Homo sapiens: one gene and its partner. The protein of the gene in region 1 interacts with the protein of each later gene in a pairwise test. Each region holds a gene or a part of one and is shown on either strand. Other genes may lie near its edges. The genes, in order: RALGDS and RRAS2.

Region 1 (3,813 bases):
GCCGACTGGGTCCCAGAGCCCAGGGACATCAGCATGCCTGCTAGGGGTGGGACAGGAGTGTCCCTTGAGGACACAGCCAAGCACGTGGTGTTCTTTTCTCCTCCTAGCAGTCAGCTCATAGCGGCTGCCTGGGCACCTGCCCTCAGGGGAAAGCGTTTTCTCTGCATCAGCTGTTCACTAGGCCGTTCCTGCTCCTCCCGCTCTGAGCTCCCAGCCCGGCCAGAGTGCCCTGGGGCCCAGGCGCTGCCCAGATGGGCTGTCTGCTAACAGAGTGACCTAGGGTGGCCTGTGGGTGCTGGAACCCTGCCTTTCTTGCTGCAGAGGGTTCTGGGGCAGCTGCCAGGGCTGTTGGCTGCTTTCTTTCTCTGTCCTGTGAGGGGGCAAGGGATAGAGGCCTTACTCTGCCACTTTGTTCCCAGACCCCAGGGCAGCTCTCTCTGGAGCCTGCACCTCCACCATCTGAGCAGATGGTTTAAACAGCCCCTGTACTCCACGTAGCTCTATGGTCTGGTTCCATGCCTGCTGCTGCTGTGACGGGAAGCGACCAGAGAAGACAGGCCAGCTCCACGCGGGCTAGAGCGTCTCCCCGACTGTGTGACAGGGTGGCAACTCCCTTACCCCAAGCATGCATGGCTCTCAGTGTTGGGCCTGCATCCTTCCCCACCACCCGGCTGGCAGAAGAGGGCCCCCCGGGGGTGGGGGAAGGGTGCAGGGATCACATGACACCAAGCAGGGCTGGGCCAGCTGCTGGCCTGCCAGCTCACGGAGGAGCCGCTCTCTAGACCTGCTCAGGGACAGCCGAGGCCACCTGGCTTCAGCCCCTCCTGGGGATTGGCCTGCCTGGGGACACCTCTGTCCAGCAGGCACTGATGGTGCTCAGCCAGGACCTGGGTGCTGTGCTGGGCTCCCCCAGGGTTAATGTTTAGTCCCCTGTGGCGGGCTTGTCCTGCACGAGATCTCAGAGCCACTGCCGGTGACTTGGACACTCAGGATACTGTCTGCCTCCCAGCTGGTCCAGATGTGGCTAAAATCCCTGGGAGAGAGAGAGACTCCCAGCTGAGCCAACGGCCTTCACAGGAGGCAGTCTGGGACCCCTGAGGAGGCCCGGGTGGTTGGGGGCCCTGGTCGCTGTAACCTCTAATGCTTTTCTTTTCAAAGGAACAACTTTCTAGGCAGGGGAGAGATGTGTGAGTCAGGAAAAGGGGGGTGAGCGTATGTCTCTTTTCCTGTCAGTGGAAGGGCCAGACCTCCCCTGGCGGGGCTGTTTGTGGGGTGTGGGTGTGAGTGTGCCTGTGGGTTCCCTGCTAACTTCCAAGAAATGGGGCTGGCTCTCTGTCCAGAGGCGGTGGCGGTCAGGAGCCCGGCACAATGCCCGCAGCTTTCCTGTTGTACAAAGCCCAGCGTGGGAGGCGACCTCAGGTCGGAGGAAGTGGACTTCCAGGATGGCTCCTGGGCCTCTGAGGGTGCGCAGGAGGCAGGAGGCCAGGGTCCCGTCCACAGCATGCTGGACAGTCTACCTGGCTCCTGCTGGGGTTGAGGGAAGGGCCTGAGTCAGCACTGTCTGCCAGGCCTTCTCTGAGCTCCACGCCTACCTGGGCTGGGGCACTGACTGGGCGGTTAATGACCCTGGGCCAGGCCAGTACCTCTTAGCTCCTTCCTAACCTCTGAGGTTGATGTCCTTAACCCCCCGGCTCCTCTACCCGCTGCAAGCTCATTCCGTCCCTGGACAGAGCAGGTGGCATAGGGGGCTGTGAGGCCGGGGGTAATTGTGGCTAAGTGACCTAGGCCAGCCTGCCAGGTGGGGGAAGTCTGTCTCCTAAGACAACGGCCTTTCCTTACTGCCTGGGGCCAGATGCCCCCTTCCTGTTCCAGTCTAGGCCTGTGGTTTAGGGCTCTGTGGAACCCCAGCATCTGCCTGGATACCAGCACCGTCACCTCTCACACCCGTCCCCTCACGTGATGATGGTCAGGGAACTGGGAACTCCCATTGCCCAAGCAGGCACGAGGGCATGAATGAGCAGAGGGGAAGGAAGTGGCTGGGATGTGGCTGTCTGGGGTGCCCCACACCTGCCCAGACCTGGGCTGCCAACGCACCAGGGCTGGGCCCAGAGGAGCTGTGCGTTCCTGCTAGGTCAGCCAGGGCCCCCCAGGCTGGGTAGAGGAGGGGTGAGTGTGAGGATGCCCATGGGCCTCTGGCCCTGGGGAGGTAGGGGGACCTTCTCTTGGGGCATAGCCGCCTGGATGCAGTCAGCCGTGTCAGAGCCCTGGGGTCCCTGCCTCACCACTTACCCGAGGCAGCATGACCTTGGACCAGTTGTTCCTCTCTCAGCCTCCATTTACCCATCTGTGCAATGGCTGAATAACAGTCCCCTGTGTGGAAGGGGATGGCTTGAGGGTGGGTCTGTCCTGGGCAGGAGCAGAAGCCAGTTACTAGGGGATTGGAAGCCTGGTGGACTCATCATAATCACGTCCCAGGTCGTGGCTGGCCGGGTTGGGGAAGTGGAGTGCCGGGACAGTGGCTCTCGAGCTGTGATCTCATTCCACCCCAGGCTGTAGGTCTGTGCAGCCGCCAGTCTGTGCCCTATCTGGGAAACAGGTTACACAGGTGCATCCCCTGCACGGTGGCCAGGCAGGCCCTTGACGTCCCCGCGCCCGGCTGCCGGGCGTTGTCTTCACAGAGCTCCACGCAGGAGATCGGTGAGGAGCTGATCAACGGAGTCATCTACTCCATCTCCCTGCGCAAGGTGCAGCTGCACCACGGAGGCAACAAGGGGCAGCGCTGGCTCGGGGTGAGTGCGCTCGGGGTCTCCACTGGGAGACGCAGCTGGGGATCCCTCCCAGGACTTTTTCACTTGAGGGCCCCCAGTTCTGATCCCAAAGGAAACGGCCTTCACTCCCTTCCCGACCCCCACTGTCCAGCCCAGGCTTAATCGGGTTTTCATGTTTGACCTCCCTTCCCCGGGTGTGCAGCCATCAGCCTCACCATCCTCCATGCCTTCTCCCAGATGTGCACACCATCTGGAGTAGTGGGGCTGTCTTCACCCAAGGACAAAAGGGCTTCAGGCTGTTAGGTCTCTGCAAGTTGCCATCTCCCAGAACACATCCCTGGGGTTCCTCCAGGTTGAGAGCCGGGGCCTGACTCAGCTGCATAATATTCCAGAAGGGAGGCTGGAGCCACTGCCCCAGTTCAGCTCCTCATGACTGTGGGGCCACTGTGAGTCCTCTGAGGACACTTCAACAGTGCTGCAGGAGCCAGGCGCAGTGGCTCATGCCTGTAATCCCAGCATTTTGGGAGGCCAAGGCAGGAGGATTGCCTAAGGTCAGGAGTTTGAGACCAGCCTGGCCCACATGGTGAAACCCCATCTCTACTAAAAATACAAAAATTAGCCAAGCATGGTGGTGTGTGCCTGTAATCCCAACTACTTGGGAGGCTGAGACATGAGAATTGCTTCAGCCCAGGAGGCTGAGGTTGCAGTGAGCCGAGATCACACCACTGCACTCTAGCCTGGGTGACTGTCTCAAAACAAAACAAAACAGTGCCACGGGGAAGATGCTGTGCGTCCTAACGGGCCAGTCCCTCCCAGCCCCTGGATAAGCCTCTGTTTCCTCATCTCTAGAATGGGGATATTTTGTTAGAGCTCTCAGATGACGCTCTTCCCACAGGGCAGCTACCATTACTCAGCTAACAACGGACCTGAAGGTGTCAGTATTTAAATCATTCCCGCACCTCAAATTCTACTTTAAAAATTTTTTCACTCTTTTAGAGACAGGGTCTCACTCTGTCACCCAGGCTGCCATGCAGAGGTATGATCA
Region 2 (3,813 bases), on another chromosome or scaffold:
GCTACTACTCAGGAGCTGAGGCAGGAGAACTGCTTGAACCTGGGAGTCGGAGGGTTGTAGTGGGCGGAGATCATGCCACTGCACTCCAGCCTGGGCAACACAGCAAGACTATATCTCAAAAAAAAAAAATGTCTCTCTCTCTCTCTCTCCCTCTCTCTCTCTCTCTCTCTCTCTATATATATATATTTTAAAAGTTTCTTTTTCAAATTAAAGTTGGTCTTTAAAATTGAAACAGATTTTGTGATGCCACTTGACACGCCTTTTTTTCTGGTTGGGGAAAATGGTCTTTAGGATATTAATTCCACCGTGCCTTCCTTAATGAAAAGTGATAATGAGTAAAGGATTTTCACTTTGCGTGTAGACAGTATGGAGTTAATAGTCATGAATTTTGTTGAAAGGCCTTGATCTTGAATTACTTTGGGCAGAGCTGCTGAGTCTGTTTGAGATTGAAACTTAAACTTGTAGTTGGTAGGCCTTAGATTTATTTCTTTTGCAAAGAAAAATGTGTTTCAAAGATGCAAAGAAATATAAATTGTCTTAAATTGTACTTGAGAATAATTGGACTGAGCTCCTTGATGTCTTATAAATTATATTTTATTTTTAGTGTTTTATAAAGGCCATGTGATTATTTGTTGCATAGCACTGAACAGCTTTAACTTATAGTTTAATTAAAAATGCAGTCAGTTTATTGTCGGTATATACTAACAGTTTAATATTGCCGTCTTTAACTTACTGTCACCTTATACAATGATTCTTTTTTCTGGGAGAAAGCTCTTTATCCATGTAAGTAAAATTCAGCAGTAGAAATAAGAATATAAGTGTTAAAAAGACATCCGATGTTGCTTTCTTTTTTGACTTTAACCAGATTTCCCAAATGGTAACATTTTACTATATTTGCTTATTCCCTGCAATATATGGTTTTTAAAATCATTTGAATGTAAGTTGAAGACATGATGCCACCCTTATCCTTAAATATCTCTTTGTGTATTTCCGAAAAACCAGGGCATTTGCTGTCTTCTTTTTTTTTTTTTTTTTTGAGACGGAGTCTCACTCTGTCACCCAGGCTGGAGTGCAGTGGCACAATCTCGGCTCATTGCAACCTCCGCCTCCTGGGTTCAAGGCATTCTCCTGCCTCAGCCTCCCGAGTAGCTGAGATTACAGGCGCCCACCACCACACCTGGCTAATTTTTTTTTTTTTTTGAGATGGAGTTTCACTTTTGTTGCCCAGGCTGGAGTTCAGTGGTGCGATCTTGGCTCACTGCAACCTCCACCTCCCGGGCTCAAGCCATTCTCCTGCCTCAGCCTCCCGAGTAGCTGGGATTACAGGCGCTTGCCACCATGCCCGGCTACTAATTTTTGTATTTTTAGTAGAGACGGAGTTTCACCGTGTTGGCCAGGCTATTCTTGAACTCCTGACCTTATGTGATCCACCTGCCTTGGCCTCCCAAAATGCTAGGATTACAGGTGTGAGCCACTGTGCCTGGCTGCATTTGCTTTCATGAATAAAATATACTAACCTAACTCAGAAATTAACATTGATTTGTTATTATACTATTACCTGATGTGTAGAATTTGTTTGAAATTTGCCAGTTGTTCCAGTTACGCCTTTTATAGCAAAAGAAAATCTCAGATTATCCAATTCATTATTTCCATGTCTTACTTTGGAACAGTTCTTTAGTCTCTGTGTTTTATGACATTGATATTTTTAAAGAGTACAAATTAGTTACTTATAGAGTCCCCTCAGTTTGGGTTTGGCTGATGTTTCTTCATGATTAGATTCAGGTTATGCATTTTTTGGGGGGCAGAAATAATACAGAAATTATGTGTTATTAGGCAACATAAGATGTGTTTATTTGACCACATACATGCCTTTTGACTCAGCAGTCCCAAATCTCAGAATTTACCCAGAAGATGCACTTCCCACAGTATGAAAATACACATGTACAAGGTTGCAGCATTTCTTAATTACAAAAATTAACAAGCAGTCTACGTGGTAGGAATATCCAATGGAGCATTATGCACCTGTGAAAAAGACTGAGGGCATGATTAACTGATATGGAGTGCTTTCTTGGATATGTTGTTCACTTGTCTTGGTTTGTCTTGCTTTCAAACAAGCTTGTCCAACACTCAGCCTGCGAGTGGCATGCGGCTCAGGACACCTTTGAATGTGGCCCAAGACAAATTCATAAAATTTCTTAAAACATGAGATTTTTTTTTTGCAATTTTTTTTTTAACCTCGTCAGCTATCGTTAGTTTAGCGTATTTTATGTGTGGCCCAAGACAGTTCTTCCAGTGTGGCTCAGGGAAATCGAAAGATTGGACACCCCTGCCCTAAAGGAATACCTGAGGCTGGGTAATTTATAAAGAAAAGAGGTTTTGTTGGCTTAGAGTTTTTGCAGGCTGTACAAGAAGCACAGTACTAGCATCTGCTTCTGGTGAGGGTGTAAGGAAGCTTCCATTCATGACAGAAGATGAAGGGGAGTGGCATGTGCAGAGATCACATGGTGAGAGGAAGCAAGCCAGTGGGGGAGGCGCCAGGCTCTTTTTAACAACCTGCTGTGGTGGAACTAATAAGTAAGAGCTCACTCACACCCCAGTCCCAGGGAGGGCATTAATCTATTCATGAGGGATTCATCCCCATGACCCAAACACCTCCCATTAAGCCCCACCTCCAACTTTGGGGATCAGATTTCAATATGAGATTTGGAGGAATCGCACAAACCAAACTTACAGTCAGTGAAAAAAAAGTGCAAAAGTATCTACTACTGTGTGTATACTACCTTTTGTGTAAGAAAGAAGGAGAAATAAGAAAATACGTATGTATTTGTTCATTGGGGCAAAAACAAAACACAAAGATAAATTGGAGGTTGATAAGATTGATTTCCTAGAGGATGGGTAAAAAGGTATATGGTGGAAAGGATAGAGGGAATGGGGGCAGGGACCCTTCTGAGGATACCTTTCTGACTTTTGAAACCATGTTAATGTTTCACATACTGAGTATATAAGCAGCAAACACACCAACCAAATCAACTGATGACAAATAAAAACACCTTAACAGGGAGTACAAATAGAAACAAATGAACTGAACCGTATTTCAAATGAGTAACTTAACTACACTGAAGGAGTGAAAAACAACTAATTTAGGTAACTTTTGATCCTAGTATTTGAACTCTGTCCTCAGGATAAAGACAAAAAGATTGAAAGAAACATTGAACTCTAGTTAATAGAGTTAACTAGAATTTTTGGTTTTTGTTGTTGTCATAAAGGCATGGGTTTGCAATTTTGAAGCAATTGTCTATACTGTTATAAGCAAATAAGTAAATATATTGTGGAAAATGGGAGCCAGTTTCTCACTGTTGGAGAAGGGAGTTACAAAGGTGAAAAATGTGAAGGTTAAAATGAACTCTGATGTTTGATTGGAATTGCAGATAGTGGCATAAATTCATAGTTTTAGAAGTATGTAGATATAGGCCGGGTGTGGTGGCTGACACCTGTAATCCCAGCACTTTGGGAGGCTGAGGCGGGTGTATCACGAGGTCAGCAGATCGAGACCATCCTGGCTAACACAGTGAAACCCCCCTCTTTACTAAAAATACAAAAAAAAAAAAAAAATTAGCCGGGTGTGGTGGCGGGTGCCTATAGTCCTAGCTACTCAGAAGGCTGAGGCAGGAGAATGGTGTGAACCTGGGAGGTGGAGGTTGCAGTGAGCCAAGTCGCGCCACTGCAGTCCAGCTTGGGTGACAGAGCAAGACTCTGTCTCTAAAAAAAATAATAAAAATAAAAAATGAATACAAAAAATTAGCCGGGCGTGGT

Evidence for each region.
Region 2: the proteins of RALGDS (region 1) and RRAS2 interact in a two-hybrid assay, tested with the Homo sapiens proteins (2 studies listed by BioGRID and IntAct).

Annotation. Positions count from the first base shown.
Region 1 is NC_000009.12:133,111,018-133,114,830, reverse strand, and holds part of RALGDS (ral guanine nucleotide dissociation stimulator), read left to right. Parts: intron 1-2,678; coding exon 2,679-2,789; intron 2,790-3,813. UniProt on the Homo sapiens protein: Functions as a guanine nucleotide exchange factor (GEF) activating either RalA or RalB GTPases and plays an important role in intracellular transport. Interacts and acts as an effector molecule for R-Ras, H-Ras, K-Ras, and Rap.
Region 2 is NC_000011.10:14,349,118-14,352,930, reverse strand, and holds part of RRAS2 (ras-related protein R-Ras2), read left to right. Parts: intron 1-3,813. UniProt on the Homo sapiens protein: GTP-binding protein with GTPase activity, involved in the regulation of MAPK signaling pathway and thereby controlling multiple cellular processes. Regulates craniofacial development.